2 separate regions of the Homo sapiens genome follow, and region 1 is linked to region 2. The links come from fine-mapping of genetic effects on gene expression. A gene starts in region 2. The other region holds a variant in brackets. All regions are shown on one strand. Distances are from middle to middle.

Region 1 (8,000 bases), 31 kb before region 2:
GGCACACTCACAATGGGACCCCAGCCGCTCACACCACACATGTACCCCACACACAACATAAGCCAGCAAACCAGCGTGTAAAGAACACGCTAGTGGGACGCCGTGTTCATGAAGCTCAAGAACAATAATTGCAAAACATGTGGCTTAAGGGTACACAGTGCCCCAAATGAATGCGGCCACTCTGCATTCAGCAGGGCCTGGGCCACCCCCAAAACCCGGGCTTGGGGAGTCCAGGAATCAGTCAGGGCTCACATGGAGCAAACCAGCTGCCATCCCCTGAGACCCCCGTACCCTGAGGGGGAGCCTCAGAAATGCACCCGCTCCCCACAGTGAACTCTGCTCCAATCGGCCAACGCCAGCCACCAGGACCAGCCCAGGCCTCAGCACACGAAGTGAAGGACAGGAAGGAAACAGAGGGGAGCCTATGGGTGAAAGACTAAGCTTGGGGCTGCCCCTGGAAACTGCTGACCTGTGGGTCCGGACCCTTCTCTGGGGTGGGGCCGTCCTGGGCACTGCAGGGTGCTGAGCAGCATCCCTGGCCCCCACCCACTCCATGCCAGGAGCTCCCCTCAGCCCTGACAACTGTAGATGTCCCCAGACATCACCCAGTGTCCCCTGGGGGCAGAGCCGCTGCGGTGAGATGCCCTGGCCTAGGAGTGATAGAATCAAGGTACTTGGAAAGTCTGCCTGGAAAGCAGGCAGGATTCCTGGGCTGGTGGAAGGCACAGGGCCAGGACAGCGCCCACAATGACCCCACCTTCTCCTGGGCCTCTCATGGGTGTCTGAGACACTCAACAATCCCCAGGCCCAGGTCCAGATTTGTCCCCAACCTTTTCCTTTGTCCCCTTCCTTACGGAGTTCCCAGCCCCAGTGTCACCCACAGCTCGGGCCAGAAATCCCAGAGCCACCCTGCCTTCTCTCACCCTCAAGTCCTGTCCATCACAAATCCTGTGGGCCCCGCCTTCAGGAGATGCAGGGCCCACCCACTGCTCACCCCTCCAAGGCCCCTGGACCAGCCCTGTGGCCTCTGCCTTGGTCTCCCGGTGCCACTCATAGTCTGTCCTCCAAGCAGCCACCAGAGGGTATCTGTGAGCACCTGGGTCAGGTCCCATCCCTCCTCAGCCCTCCACGGCTGCCACCTTTCTCATGGCCAAATCCCAAGTCCTCCCCGCAGCCCACAAGGCCCCGCATGACCTGCCCTGCCCCGCCCTCCCCCCTTCCCTCTCTCCCTCTCCTCACTCTGCTCCAACCCCACGGGTCTCCTGGCTGTTCCTCCCAGGTGCAGTCCAGCCCCAGGGCCTTTGCCTGGGCTGCGCCCTCTGCCTGAAACCCTCCTCCTCCAGGTACTTGCCTACTCTTGCCTCCTCCCAGATGCTGCCCAAACACCACCTTGTGGCCTCATGGGCCACCATCTTCAAAGCCATACAAAACCCCCAACCCACCGCAGCCACTTCGTTCCTTCTCCCTGGCACCTGTACTGTGCAGCGAGCTCCTGGTCTGTCTCCCCTGAGGCAGAGGCATCCTGCTGCACCCCTCGCCCCTTCCCCAGTGCTGAGCGCTGCCAGGCACACAGCGTCTGGGAGCAGGCGAATGAAGAGGCAGCCCAGAGCTGTCCACCTCACACGCCCAGGGCCAACGCCGGCCCCGCCGGTCTTACCCACCCTCCTGAAGTTGCTGACTGGGGCGCCCATGTCACCAGGTGCCCCCACGGTGACACCTGCCCTGGGCTCCCACCCTGACCCCCACCACTAGAGTGCCTCAGTTTCCCCAACTGGAACCAGGAGTCGGACAGTCCCAAGCTCAAGGGCTTACCACTGTAGGAGTCGGGAGGCCGAGACAGGTCAGGGAGGGTGCCTGGCTGGCTGGGGAGGGCCGCGTGGTTGTGCATGAGGCTGGTGCTGCCTGCGAGGCCGTCCTCGGGGTGGCTGCCTCCAACCTGCAGGCGTGGGGAGACGGGTGCATCAGGGGGAGCCGGGTCCCCGCCCACTGCCCAGCTCCACCCTCGCCCAGCGCTCACCAGGCCTGCGTGCCGCCCGCCCAGTGACATGGGGCCGGTGAAACCTGAGGCCAGCGCCCCGTGGCCAGGCAGCAGCGTGTGCATGTCGCCGGCTGTGCCCACGGCGTGGCTGCGGAGCACGTGGATGGCCTCGTCCAGGTGGTCTTCTATCTTACTCTGCTGCAGGGTGGGGGGATGGGTGGTGAGGGGCCCAAGCCGAGGGACCCCACAGGCCTCCATTCATGTCCCTTCCGCATGCAAGTGGCCGGTGGTCCCATCTTCCCCTTCCCCAGGAAGCTGCATATGCCAGGCATCTGGCGCCCGGGAGCACACACAAAATGTGTGTGCCTTGGCGGCCACGAGGCCTCAATAACAGCTTGGGGCTTATTTACAAGAAACTAACAAAAAGGTTTCTCCTTCTCAAGGAGCGTCTGTCCTGCAAATTCTGTCGGGGAAGGGTGGGGTGGGGCGGGGCAGGCACTCACCAGGCCGTGGAGACCCCCGTCGTAGCTGGGCGATAAGGCACCGGGGGCTCCTGCTCGAGGCCACTGTGACGTTCCTGGAAGGGAGTGGGGACGTGAATGGGGTGCGAGGGGCGGGGTGTGAGCATGGCCTGATGCCCATGGGGAGGGATTCATGAACCACCCCGCCTGTCCAGCCTCCGGTGATGCCCAAGATGGCCATTCCGGGGCACCCCACACTGATGCAAAGCTGCTCGGCCCCGCCAGGCAGGGATGCTGGGTGCCCAGTGGGTACTGCCATTCCTATCTCTGAGCCTCAGTTTCCCCATCTACAAAATCCAACTCCCCACTCAGAGGATAAAGTGGCTCGGCAGCACACAGTAGGGGGCTCCTCCCCATGCTGCCCCACCCTGGCTGACCCACGCTGGGCTCCAGCAGCAGGCAAGAAAGTGGCAAGCTCCAGGTGGGACCAGACAGGCCGAGGTGAAGTGAGGGTTCCTGGCGCTTCCCATGGGGGCAGAGATGAGGACTCACGGGTGTTTTTAAACACCCAGACCTTCTGGAAACCTCCAGTTCTCACTCCCCCTCCTCCTGTACCTGCCCCCGACCCCCTGCGGATAAGCAAGCACGTCCTCACAGGGATAGGAGGGTCTGCCCTCCCATGCCGGAGCACCGCACAGGGTAAACAGTCAGTACCTAATAAATACCCAGTGGGTGAGCAAATGGCAACACGCACACATTCTAGAGTCCAGGCCACAGCCCTGGCGATGCTGGCCCCATCGGACCTGGGAGCTGCTAGGCACGCCAATGTCCCCTCATGTTCACGCAGTGTGAACTGCCAGGTCCTGCCTCCTGGCTTTGCCTGTGCTGTGACCTAACCTGGACGCCACCTCCCAGCCCTCCCTCACTGCCTGGTTATGTGCTATAGCCTTGGAGGGCTGGCTTGGAGGCTGCCTCCACTAGGCAGCTTTCCTGGATTGCCCAGTGGAACACAAGCCCATGGGGGACTCCCTTCCACCGTCGGTTCCTGACCAGCGATGCCACGGGCCCTTGGGGGCCATCTGCTCCCTCCCCGCTGCCTGCCTATCCCAGCAAGGTGCAGACACCAGAACCAGCCTCCCCTCCCCCGCAAAGCCTTCACAGACCTCAGCCTCCCCTCCCCCCAAACCCTCACAGACCTCAGCCTCCCCTCCCCCCAAAACCCTCACAGACCTGCCAGGCCCTGGGGGGAGCCCACGGGGGTAGAAGGGCTGGACGAGAAGTTATTGCTTGAGTGATCCGGGGAGTAGATCTGCGAGGAGGACCAGGAGAGATGGGCGGTCAGGGGCCGGCCTCTCAGGTCACTTGCCTGGCCACCCCCCATGCCCCACGCCTCACCGAGGCCAGTGCTTTGCCGAGGGCATCCCCGGAGCTGCCAGCTGTGGTCCCTCGGGAGCCTGTGGGTGAAGAGAGGTGAGGCCCACGCAGCCCGGCCTGGGTGCTGCCGCCGACGGCAAGCTCTCCTGCGTTCTGCCGTCCTGCACAGACACTGCTGCGCCAGGGAGAGCAGCCTGACTCGGGTCCGGTTTCTGTCTGACCCCCTGAAACCAGCCTCTGCAGGGGTTGAGGCACTGGGGACAGGCCACTGGCAGGGGACCCTGGGTGGGTGAGTCCCCTTCTGGGCCTGGGTGGGTGAGTCCCCCTCTGGGCCTGGATGGGTGAGTCCCTCTCTGGGCCTGGGTAACTGAGTCCCTCTCTGGGCCTGGGTGGGTGAGTCCCTCTCTGGGCCTGGGTGGGTGAGTCCCTCTCTGACCCTGGGTGGGTGAGTCCCTCTCTGACCCTGGGTGGGTGAGTCCCTCTCTGAGCCTCTTTCCCAGCTGTAAGGCGGGAAAGCCGCTCCTCAAAGATCTGTTTCCAGACATCCCAAGCCCAACGCACGTGGCAGGCCCTGCAGACAGCGGACAATGAGAACTGACAACAACCCGCTCTCAGGGCCAGCAGACGCGCCTGCGCCTCCCGTGGAGTCCTCGCCACCCCCCACCCAGACCCTGCCTGGAGCCCAGTGTCCCCTCGGAGAGGCCGCATCCCAGGGAGGGGCCATACCCAGGAGGCTGTCGGCCCCGCTGACAGGCGGCGTGTGGCTGGAGACGCCGCCGTACGTGGCTCCGGGGGCTGAGGAGAAGGAGGATGCAGATGGGAGCCCACCGTTCACCTCTGCTCCATGCAGCTGGTAGCCCTGGGGGGTCAGGCAGGAGGAGGGTGGGTTAGATGGGCACTGCCACCCTCCGCCCACCCCCTGCCCCCTGCCCTGGGTCCTACCATACGCTCGTGCTGGTGCAGGCCACCAAACGTGCTGCTGCTTCCACTGCTGCCCACCGGGCCGCTACCGGGCGGGAGGGGCAGCGGGGATGAGCCCCCACCCAGCATGGGCCCGAAGCCCGCCTGGCCCGGGGGACTCCAGAGCTCGGCTGAGGGGTGCAGGCTGCCATCTGTGGAGGGGAGCTGGTAAGGTGGGGGCCGAGTGGGGAACCCCAGCCCTGCCCTACCGTCCCTGGCGAGCCC[C/A]CGCCCTGCCATGTACCTGCCACGTAGAAGGGGGCGGGATAGGTGCTGCTGGGGGTCTTGGCGGACGGGTAGGCGGTGGCATCCCTGCCGTAGTCCTCACCTGAGCTGGGTGGGTACACCTGCGGGCGGGTGGGCGGTGGGGGGTGCAGTCAGGACGGAGGGACCACGATCAGCCCATGCACCTTGCCGGCCTCCTGTCCCCTCCTGGTAGCACATCTACCACCCCGTTTCCCTTCCCTGTAAAGCCACCCCCCTTTAGGTAAATCCCAGCCCCTGGCCAAGTTTGAGGTTCTTATGATGTCCTGGTCTCTCTCTCCTACTCCTTTTCCAGCCCCCACCTCCCGCCTCCCTGAACTTCTGACCTTTGTACTTGAGGACTTGGATCTGGCTCTGCCTACTAAACCTTTTTCCTCCTTAATCCAGAAAACTCCTATCGACCCATCAAAACCCCAGCTCCAACACCCCATCCCATCCTTCTCCCTTGTTCCCCAGCTGGAATCAATCTTCCAGTGCTGAGCTTCCCTTGGTCCCAGAGCAACATTCGTCCTTCACTAAAGTAACAGGAAGAGGGGTCTGTGAGTAGCGCCAGCTCTGACTGGTTGGCACTGCCTGGACTGTGGGGCTGGGGCCTGTTGGTAACGTCTGCTGCTGTGCTGGAGCGGGAAGTATGCTGGGTGGGCCTGATGTTGTAATAAACTGGGGGGCGGTTTCAGGGCAGAGAAAGTGCACCCTGGGGAAGGAGGGGAGTGAGTGATACTGTTGGGAGCAGAGCCTGACCACGCCTTTGGCCTGGGAAGTCAACCTGACTCTAACCCCGAACCCAGGCCTGTGGGGAGCTGGTCGGCTGGAGGGGTGAGGAGATGTATGCCCAGGGCTCTTGGGGCCAGCACAGGCACTGGGCAGAGGGTGGTTGGTGGCTACTGAGCCAGGGAATCGGCAAATTCCCTCTCCCTCCAGCGAGATGAGACCGCAGGAGTGTGGCACAGCAGCCTGGACCATCTGCGAGGCCTGGTAGGGAGGCAGGGATGCGGGGCAGCCTGAAGCTGTGAGGATGTAACAGGGAGCCCCAATTGCGGCACCCCCCGCTTTTTTTTTTTTTTTTTTTGAGACAGAGTCTCACTCTGTTGCTCAGGCTGGAGGGCAGCGGCATGATCTTGGCTCACTGCAACCTCCGCCTCCTGGGTTCAAACGATTCTTCTGCCTCAGCCTCCCAAGTAGCTGGGATTACAGGCACGCACCACCACGCCCGGCTGATTTTTGTATTTTTAGTAGAGATGGGGTTTCACCATGTTGACTAGGCTGATCTAGAACTCCTGACCTCAGGTGATCCACCCACCTCGGCCTCCCAAAGCGCTGGGATGACAGGCATGAGCCACCACACCCAGCACAATTGTGCCCTTTCTAAAGGGGCCTCAGCCACCAGGACTGCCTTTCTCTCAAAACAAGACAGACAGAGGCTGGACCTAGGGAAGGACTTCCCCGCCTTCCCTTGGAGGCGGCCTCGGGTCAGAGCTCAGATCTTGGCTCAGAAATCACAGGGGGCCTGTCCACTCAGGGCCCACCCCGCCATGTGTGTTCCCAAGCTTCGCCAGGACACAGGGCCTGGCACTGCCACTGACGAGCTGTGGGGTCCCTTCTCCCTCGTGCGACTCACCGAGGATGGAAGACCCGGCGGGACCTTCCGGACCTTCTTGGGCTGCGTGTCTGTTAGAAGCAAAAGGGGTGAGAACCGGCCACCGGCCATGAGAACAACCCCTGCCCTACACCCTGGAGGAGAGACCCTCACAATTCCCGTTTCATATATTAAAAACCTCGGGTCGGCTGGGTGCGGTGCCTCATGCCTGTAATACCAGGACTTTGGGAGGCCAAGGCAGGCAGATCACGAGGTCAAGAGATCAAGACCATCCTGGCCAACACAGTGAAACCCCGTCTCTACTGAAAATACAAAAAGTAGCCGGGCGTGGTGGCGGGTGCCTATAATTCCAGCTACTCGGGAGGCCGAGGCAGGAGAATCACTTGAACCCGGGAGGCAGAGGCTGCAGTGAGCCGAGATCGTGTCACTGCACTCCAGCCTGGGGACAGAGAAAGACTCCGTCTCAAAACACAACAGCAGCAGCAGCAACAACAACAAAAAGCCCCGGGTCTATTTATACGGCTCCAAAGATGTCGAAGAACCACGATGGTTTTCTCCCGCGACGCGCAGTTTGGAAAACGAGGAGTTGGTGGATTCTAAGCCAAGGCTCTGCTGAGAAGCCCCTTGGCCCCACCCTCCTTCCAAGATGGCCCCGACTATCCCACGCAGTCAGGCTTCACCACTAGGGGCTGCTGTTTGCAAACTCGCCTACAGGATAAAATCCGTAACCCGGAAACCAGCACTCAGGCGCCTTCCTGATCACTCACGGACGTGCGCACAGTGGGAAAAGTTCGAGTGGCCCAGGCGCATGTGCCCAGCCAAGGCGGAACAGAGGCCTCCTCCCGCATCATGGGGCTCCTGTCCTTGGTCTATTCAGAGCCACGATCTTTTACGTTTTTGTGCTTTTTGTGGGTGATTTCACGCTTATTTTTTTCAGGCAGGGTCTTGCGCTGTTGCTCAGGCTGGAGTACAATGGTGCGATCGCAGCTCATTGCAGCCTCGAACTCCCAGGGTCAAACCATCCTCCTGCCTCAGCCTCCTGAGTAGCTGGGACCACAGGTGTGTGCCACCATACTTAGCTAATTTTTAAAATTTTTCGCAAAGATGGGATCTCCCTATGTTGCCCAGAATGGTTTGCAACTTTTGGCCTCAAGTGATCCTCCTGTCTCGGCCTCCAGAGAAGCTGGGACCCCAGGTGAGTGCCGCCATGCCTGGCGACTGTGCTGCCTGGAATGGGCCCCGGGTAGTTCAAGGCGCCGTCCAGTGCTCCTGAGCCCGAGGCTGTGACGTGCCTCGCGGGGGATGCCCGCGTGTGCAGCAGGGCTCAGTGCAGAGGAGCCACGATGCAGCCCCATGAGGCATCTGACAC
Region 2 (8,494 bases):
TCCCAGCCTGTTTCCTCATCTGGGAACGGCTCCGACCCGGGATGGGGAGACGTGCTGAGTGGCTTGAGGTGAGGAGTCAGGTCCTGGGGCTGAACCTGTGCCCCCTCCCCCCAAACGCTGGTCTGTTCCAGCCCAGCGGTCTGTGACTTGTCAGTTTAACAAAAAACAACCCAACTGCACCTCGGGTTACTCAGCCAGGGAAGCAAAAATAAAACGGGGCTTAAAAATACCAGCATGGCCCTTCCGGAGCCTTGGCCCCTCCGGCCCTTGGGCTGTTTTTTTCCGCAGGGTGGCCGGTGTTGTTTCAGTTTGGGGACTTTTGTTTTTGACAGACCTCAGTGGCCTGTGCCTCATAGGCGGGAGGGTTAAATTCAGACTGAAAGTGCCCTCCCCCAACCTGTTTCAACCCCAAACGCTGCCACTGGGCATGGGGGGGGGGGGGGAGCAGAATTTAAGGACATCTGTAGACAGGCCAGAAGAAACAAACCAAGGTCCCTGGGCTTCTCCAGGAACCCATAACACATGGCCCCACTGTACCAGCAGGCAAACCGAGGCCCCGGGCCTTTACAGCACCCGTCAGCGGCCGGTACCCCAGGGGGCTCCGGCATTCCAGCCTCACTGCACCTGCCTGAACTGTGTGACTTCTGAGGACCAGCACCCTCTGAGCCTCCGTTCACCCAGGTGGAGAATGGGCCGTACAGGGACAGATCCAACCACCTAAGACTCTGAAGAAGCCGCCCCGCCCTCCCCACCGGGCCTGCCTGCTCCGCAGTGATAACCGTGGCAGTCACAATGGTGGCGCTGCTGTCTGCTCGGTGGCCCATGAATTCCCACTCAATCCCAATCCAGCCTCCTCCTGGCCCAAGCTCGGCTTCTGGCAGCTTAACTTCAGCACCCACGTGTGACTAATTAACCACACAGTCAGTTTCATGCCCGCATCCTCTGCCCACCAGGGGAGTCCCGTATGGGGCAGGTTGTGTCTGCCCTGTTCACGGAGGGTGGTCCGCTCAGCACTGGGCACCCCCTCCTTTACTTCTTTGAGGAAGGATCTTACTCTATCGCCCAGGAAGGAGTGCAGTGGCGCAATCACAGCTCACTGCAGCCTCAACCTCCAGGGCTCAAGTGATTCTCCTTGCCTCAGCCTCCCAAGTAGCTGGGACCACAGGCATCTACCACCACTCCTAGCTAATTTTTTGAGTTTTGTTTTGTCTTTTTGAGAAATGGGGCCTCACTATGTTTCCTGGGCTGGACTTGGAACTCCTGGCCTCAAGCGATCCTCCCGCCTCAGCCTCCCAAAGTGCTGGAATGACAGGTGGGAACCACTGTGCCCAGCCCCCCTCCCATTTACTGAAACAGGGTCTCCAGGGTCTCACTGTCAACCAGACTGGAGTGCAGTGATCTTTTACTTACTTTTAATTTTTGTATCTACAATGAGGTAAGCGACCCTGATCAGGCCCATTTTACAGATCAGAAGATCAAGGCCGCATTTTGCTTACCCAGCCAAGCTGGGGGCCCAGGACCATGCCCCTGAGGACTCAGTTTCCCCATCTGTAAAGCAGTAGGCTGTAGAATGCTGCGTCCGGGCAAAAGCCCCATAGCACACGTGCTGCCGTGCGCTGTCAGCCTCCTGCCAGAGAGCGGCCCACTCCCCCAGCCCCACCGGGGCCTCCCATCCAAACAGCTGAGGCTCCATCGCTGAAGTATTCAGCAAACACTCTCCCCTGAAAACCTTCCCGTGAACTGTGGAGGCAAAGGGGTGTCGGGGGCTGGGCGGGGGTCCTGGCTCACCATGCTGAAGTCCAGGAGGTCACTGAGCTCCTTGTCTGTGCCCACAGGCGCCATCCTCTGCGGCTGGTTCATTCTCCTGGGGCCAGGGCGGGCACCTCAGGCCTGGAAACCCTGCTTGGTGGATGTGGGGACAGATGGACAGGGAGAAACAGGGAGGGGAGAAGAGTTGTGAGTGGTCAAAGCACAGAGTGCTAAAAGCCACCTAAAAAACCCTCAACCGCCCTGGGGTCTGAGTTCCAGCAGAGCCCTGGGGGCACGGGGAGCCCTGGGAGCAGGCGCAGGGAAGCTGGAATTCCAGAGTCTAGGTCCCTGCAGAGTCCTCCCCAGAGACCACAGGGAGTCTGAAAAATGGGGGGAGGGTGTGCAAATATAAACTCCCTAACTCCCCCAGGGAACACCAGGGCATCAAGTTGCCAAGTTTAAACTGCACGCAGGGCAGCCAGAACCTCTCCTTTCTCCAACTCTCTCATTTCCAACCAACCCCGGGCTTCCTCTGAGGCCCCCTACCCCCGGGAAAGGGAGGAACAGCCCGATCCTACCCCGCCCCGAGGGAAATTTGGTGATTCCCCCCTCCCCCAGCAGATGGCACAGCCCGTTGAAGACCAGGTCGCCCCCAAATTCAACATGAAGGAAATCCACAAGTCAGAAAACCACGAAACTCTTTTACAAGCTTCAAGACTTAAAGTGCCGGGGGTGGGGGGGACGCGCATCCTATGCAGGGACCAGCAAAGCTTTCCTCCACCCTCAATCTCCCTCCCCCCAAGAAAACCCCAACAGTATTCAGGAAAGAAAAAAAAAACAGCCCTAGATTGCTTTACTGTCGCGATGTATCCGGGAATTATTTTTAAGCAAAACTTTGACAACATCCCTTGCCTGCCCTCCATGAGCGGGGAGAGCGTCTCAAGACCAGGGTGCTCCCGCGTGGTCCCAGGGGGCTCCATTCTAAGATGGGGGATGGGGGATCCACCTGCCAAGACCCATTCCACCCCCAGAAAAAGGTACAGAGAAAAATTTCCATTCCAAAGAAATGCACTCCAGGCCCCTCCAGTCTCGACTTTCCCCAGGGGTCCCCAGGTGGGGACGGGGGCAGCCCGGGAGACACCTCCGAGGCTGGGGGTGGGGAGGAGCCTCCGAGGTCGAGGGAGACCCAACTTCAGAAGCAGAGAAATCCCCTCTTTGTCTGCCAACTGGAGGCCGGGTGTGAAGCGGGCGCCCCAGCGCAGCCCCTCCCCCGCTCAGTTTTTTTCTTTTTTGGAGGGCGTGTGAAACTGACTTTTTTTGAGGACTACGAAACCGCACTTTTTTGTGGGGTAGCTGAAACCGATTTTAAGACAGACTTAGTTGGGGGGGTGGCGAGCTAAAACGGGCATTCTACGGGAGCTGGAAGACTTCTGGGGCGTCCCAAGGACTTTGAGAGACTTGGAGAATGTTTGAAGCCACTTTGCACGGCGCCGAAGGCGGGGGGCGCGCTGGAACGCCTTTTTCCCGGGGGGAGGCGGCCCGGGAAGCCGGACCCCCCTCCCCCCGCAGCCGGTGCAGGCGGTGCGGCCCGGGAGCCTTTGAAGCTCGCAGCGCGGCCGCCGCCTCGCCCCGCATTAACGCGGAGCAGATGTTACCCGCGCGCCCCCCCCCGGCCCGCCCGGCCCCGACCAGCGCCTGCAGCGCGCGGCACCTTCCCCGCGCAGACAAAAGGACGTCCCTCCCGCGCGCTCCCCACCCCAAACTCCGGCGCCCGGGCCGGGCCCCCCTCTACCCGAGAAAGGGGGCGCCCCGGGGTCCCCGTGCGCCCGGGCTGGGGGGGACGGTCCTCGCGCCTAAGTTGCACAGCCCGTCCGGCGCCCCCCGCGCCCCCGCCCGGGGCTGCTTAAAGTTTCCCGAAGTGCCCGGCCCGACGGGGGCGACGCGGGCCTGGCGAGCTCCGGGCTCCTCCACGTCGCCGCCCCCCCGGCGCCGCGCGAAGTTGGAGAACAATGACTCCCGGGCCGCGGGGCGCCCCCCGACACCGCCCCCGCCCCAACTTCCTCCGCGCCCCCCCCCAACAAGCGCGCGCGGGGCGGGCCGGGGTTCCCTGGGCACAAAGCACGGGGGTACCGGGCGCGCCCCCCGCCCCCCGCCGGGCTCACCTGCTGGGCGCGGCCGGGCACGCGGCGCGTGGGGGGGGGCGGCGGCATGAAGCGGGGGGGCCCCCCCCCGGACAAAGGTGCGTCGCGGCCGGGCCCCCGAGGGTCGCGCGTGGGCGGCGGCGGCGGCGCGCGTGGCCCGGGCCCCTCCCACCCCCGCGTGGCCCGTCCCGCGGGGCCCGTGCGCGCGGCCGGCCGGGGCGCCCCTGGGGCAGCGGCGTGCGCGGTGCCCGCGGTGCCCGCCGCCGCGTCGGCTCCGGCCCGCTACGCCCGCAGCCGCCGCCGCTGCCTCATCTTCCTGCGGCGGGAGACATGTTCCGCCCCCCGCCCGCGCCGCCCCGCCCCGCCCCGTGCAGGCCCCGCCCCTGCCCCGCCCCCGAGTGCCCCGCCCGGCGGCCCACGCGGATCCCTCCGCCACCTCCGGGCGGCTCGGGCCCGAACGCCCTAGCTCGGCCTCTCGAGCACCCTCGTGAGGACCCCGAATCCCGTGAGGTCCAGAGCCTGGGAGCGGGGACGCGCAGAGGAGGCGGTCGGGCCACGGCGCGGGGAGAAATCACGGACTATCCCCGTCCGCGGAAGCACACACGAGCTGTGCGCTTAGTCCATGACGCAAGCGAGTAAGGCCCGTGAGATTGAAAGCTAAGGCAGAGCAGTCTGGTCAATCGGAAGCCGCGAAAGTCTGATGGGCGGGGATCCTAGCCATTCGTGGTGAGGCCCCGCCTCCTTTCTTCTCGGCCCCGCCCCTCAGCAGAGGCGGGACTCTGCGAGCGAGAGGCCGCGAGAGGCGGCCGGGGTGGGTCCTGGAGTTTTGTTCTCAGGTTGGCGTGGCCGCCCGCGCGGAGCCTTCTGCTTGGTTATATTTGCGTTCCTCGGGCCGGCCCCGCGTGCTGAGTGGTGCGAGCGGGTATCACGGCCCCGAGGGGGCTACGTCAGACCCATTTTCCCGGCGGGAAAACCGACTCTGGCTCCGGCTCTGGGTCAGAGAGCCCCGCGGGGAGTCTCAGCGGTGCCTTTGCCGACTTGAGTCTCCGTCTCGGCATCTGTGAATTTGGACCTGACTTTGGACAGAACTCAGGCCAGATCTGGCTTCCTGATTCTTAGTAGTCCGTGTCTACATTTTAGTAAAAAGTGACCCCGCCTAGGATCGGGCGCCGTGGCTCCTGCCTGTGATCCCAGCGCTTTGAAGGAGGCCGAGGCGGGAAGATCGCTTGAGGCCAGGAGTTCGAGAACAGCCTGAACAACATAGTGAAACCCCCCCCACCCACACCCGTCTCTAAAAATATTTAAAATAATTTAAAATAATAATTTAAAAAGTTGACCGGACGCGGTGGCCCACGCTTGTATTCCCAGCACTTTGGGAGGCCAAGGCGGGCAGATCACCTGAAGTCAGGAGTTCGAGACCTCTCTGGCCAACACGGTGAAACCCCATCTCTACTAAAAATACAAAAATTAGCCGGGCATGGTGGCGGGCACCTGTAGTCCTAGCTACTCGGGAGGCTGAGGCAGCAGAATCGCTTTCACCCGAAAGGCGGAGGTTGCAATGAGCCGAGAGCACGCCATTGTACTCCAGCCTGGGCAACAAGGACGAAACTCCGTCTCAAAATAAATAAATAAATAAGTAAAATAAAATAAAAATACAAAAATTAGCTGGGCGTGGTGGCATACACCTATAATCTCAGCTACTCGGGAAGCTGAGGCAGGAGAATCGCTTAAACCCAGGAGGCAGAGGTTGCAGTGAGCAGAGATCGCAGCACTGCACTCCAGGCTGGGCGACAGAACGAGGCTCCGTCTCAAAAAAAAAAGTAAAATAACTAAACAAATAAATGAAAATAACACAATCTCCCAGGGCTCCCTGGGGCCCCAAAGGGAAATTTACACTCCACTCCCAGCCTGGGAAGATGCCACCATCTCGCTGGCCCGCTTGGCTCCAGCCATCCTGCCCTCTGGATGGTCCAGAACTTGCTAAGCTCATCCCCACCCCGGGCCTCTACGTTTGCTTTGTCCTCTACCTGGGAGGCTTTTCCCACCCCTATCTGGAGCCCCTGAGTCATCACAGTTCAATGCTGCACCTATGCCAGGCCGGCGGGGAGGCGGGGCCACAGGGGCCCCCCACCAAAGCCACAAGCCCCTCCTGCTATACACCCAAACTGGGCTGTCCACAGTCCGACCCTCCGTGCCCAGAGAGTTCCACGTGCCGCAGGTCTGGGGAGAGGGCTGTGGGTCCCAGGGTCTGTGCTGCAAATCCCTCATCCCTCTCCACCTCACTGTGACCTCAGGCAAGTTCGTGCTACTCTCCGGGCCTCGGTTTCTCCATCTGGACAGTGGAAGGGGGGAGTCTGGCACACAGTAGGTGCTCACAGCTGATGCCTGCCTTCCTCAGCCGCCCCCCACCCCCGCAGAGGCCTCTCCGGAGCCAGGGTCTCCAAGCAGCTCCAATCCCACCCCAGCCTCCTCAGCCCCCGGCCCTTCCTTGTGGCCCAGCCCTGACCCCATGGGTCTGAGGGTGTCTGTGGCCGGGTCTGGCTCTCCCCATTCCAGTGTAGGGAGCTCACTGTGGGCCACTCCCCACCCACACTCAGGGTCCAAGCCATAGTGTGGCAGCCGGAGTCCTCCCGAGGAGCCCTTCAGTTTCACCCACGGAAGGGAAGCAACCATCCAATCACGGACTTCTTCTTCTTCTTCTTCTTCTTCTTCTTCTTCTTATTATTATTATTATTATTTTGAGAAAGAGTCTCGCTCTGTTGCCCAGGCTGGAGTGCAGTGGTGAGATCACAGCTCACTGCAGCCTTGACCTCCTGGGCTCAAACGATCCTCCCGCCTCAGTTTCCCGAGTAGCTGGGACCACAGGCACGCGCCACCACACCCAGCTAATTTTGTATTTTTTGTAGAGACGGGGTTCTCCCTATGTTGCCCAGGCTGGTCTTGAACTCCTAGGCACAAGTGATCCTCCCGCCTTGGCTTCCCAGAGTGCTGGGATTACAGGCGTGTGCCACTGCGCCGTACAAGACTATTCAATTATCGGGCACTGACAGCGAACGGGGCCTTGTGCCGCGCATCGTAGCACTGTGGACAGTGATGGACTCAGTCCCTGCTGTCCCGGCAGGATGACCCATGAGGGACCCCTTGTCTAGTCCTGAATGTGGCTCTTTCCTGTGAGGTCCTCCTGCCTGTGTGGTTCCACGTATCGTACAGATGAGGAAACTGAGACTAGGGGTCTCCTCCCTGGGCCCCAGGGCACCCTGGGGCTCGCGCCTGCCAGGAGGTTCCGCTGGTAACCACAAGCCACCATTGTTTTCCCCAAGGAGGTCAGTCCTGGGGCTGAGTCACTGGGTGGAGCAGCCCGTGGGGGCCCCCCACTTGGCCACCACCTCTGCCCAGCCCCGAGGCCTGGGTGCTCCCTCCAGGGCCCTGGTACGGGGACAGGCAGCAAGCTATCCTCCTGACTGTGGCCTTTGTTTTGCTCTGGGGCCGGGCAGGAGGAGGAGCAGGGCCTCTGCACCTGCCGCCTGTTCCCTCCACACCTACTGTGTGCGCCCCCGCCAACATGAACCACGTATGTCAGAAAAACTGAGGCCAAGGACAACTTCCCACTAGGGAGACACAGAAGCGAGGGGGGCGAGGGGCGGCGATGGCGAGGTTTCCAGAGACAGACGCAGTAGGTGTGCAGGCCACAGCTGTCCGCAGAGAGACTGGGCTTGGATTAGGACTTCGGGGCCACCCTCCAGATTTCTGTTTCCATTTGTCCCTAAAGTGGGCACCTTTGACTTCTCCCAGGGTATGAACACACTCCCCCAACCCCCAGCGCCCTCCAGCAGGGGCGGAGAAGGGAGTGGCGGCCCAGCACTTATCACCCACGTCAGGCCCTGGGACAAACCTCGCTCCGGCGTCCACTGAGCACGGGCAGCTGGGGCGATCGGTGTCGCCTCCCAAAGTGGGGGCTTCCTGCTCGAGCTCAGACCTCCAGTGAGGGGCCTGATCCCAACACGACCAGATCAGGACCACCCCACAGAGCCCTGGGCTGGGACTCGGCCAGGGTAGGGCCCATTCCCTTATTCTCCACAACTTCGTTTTTATTTTATTTTAGCAGAGATGGGGTGAGGTGGAAGGATCGCTTGAGCCCAGGAGTTTGAGACCAGACTGGACAACACAGCAAGACCCCATCTCTTAAAAAAAAATTTTTTTTTTTAGATGAAATCTCACTCTGTCGTCCAGGCTGGAGGGCAGTGGTGCCAGCTCAGCTCACTACAACCTCCACCTCCTGGGGTCAAGCGATTCTCCTGCCTCAGCCTCCTGAGTAGCTGGGATTATAGGTGCCCACTGCCACGCCTGGCTAATTTTTGTATTTTTTTATAGAGACGGGGTTTCACCCTGTCGCCCAGGCTGGTCTAGAACTCCTGGCCTCAAGCGATCTTCCTGCCTTGGCCTACCCAAAGTGATGGGCTTACCAGCATGAGCCACCACACCCGGCCCCATTCTTCCTGCCTTCTGGGAGGAGGCGTCTCCAGGCTTGCTGGTTGGACCTGGGCAGGGAAGCCTCCTGAGATTGGGAGTGCTAGGGGCTTATGATTGTTCTCCCCTAGCGGAGG

The links. PIP is the estimated chance that this variant, and not a neighbour inherited with it, causes the effect.
Region 1: its variant is fine-mapped to the expression of TCF3 in whole blood (TOPMed, PIP 0.94).

The regions. Positions count from the first base shown.
Region 1 is chr19:1,617,299-1,625,298 of GRCh38, forward strand. It overlaps TCF3 (transcription factor 3), which reads right to left. Exons shown (of 19, transcript NM_003200.5): 8 at 6,653-6,702; 9 at 5,015-5,117; 10 at 4,756-4,925; 11 at 4,540-4,672; 12 at 3,835-3,893; 13 at 3,670-3,748; 14 at 2,482-2,555; 15 at 2,018-2,176; 16 at 1,813-1,936. Among named protein-coding and RNA genes, the nearest start is that of UQCR11, 16 kb to the left of the region's middle. The variant C/A (reference allele first, on the strand shown) is at 4,999.
Region 2 is chr19:1,648,389-1,656,882 of GRCh38, forward strand. It overlaps TCF3 (transcription factor 3), which reads right to left and starts at 4,227. Exons shown (of 19, transcript NM_003200.5): 1 at 3,912-4,227; 2 at 1,789-1,899. The coding sequence starts at 1,860. RefSeq lists enhancers at 1-105, 446-755, 768-1,267, 4,686-4,735, 4,856-4,965 and silencers at 3,146-3,265, 3,246-3,468, 3,276-3,505, 3,596-3,675, 4,206-4,335 and 1 more.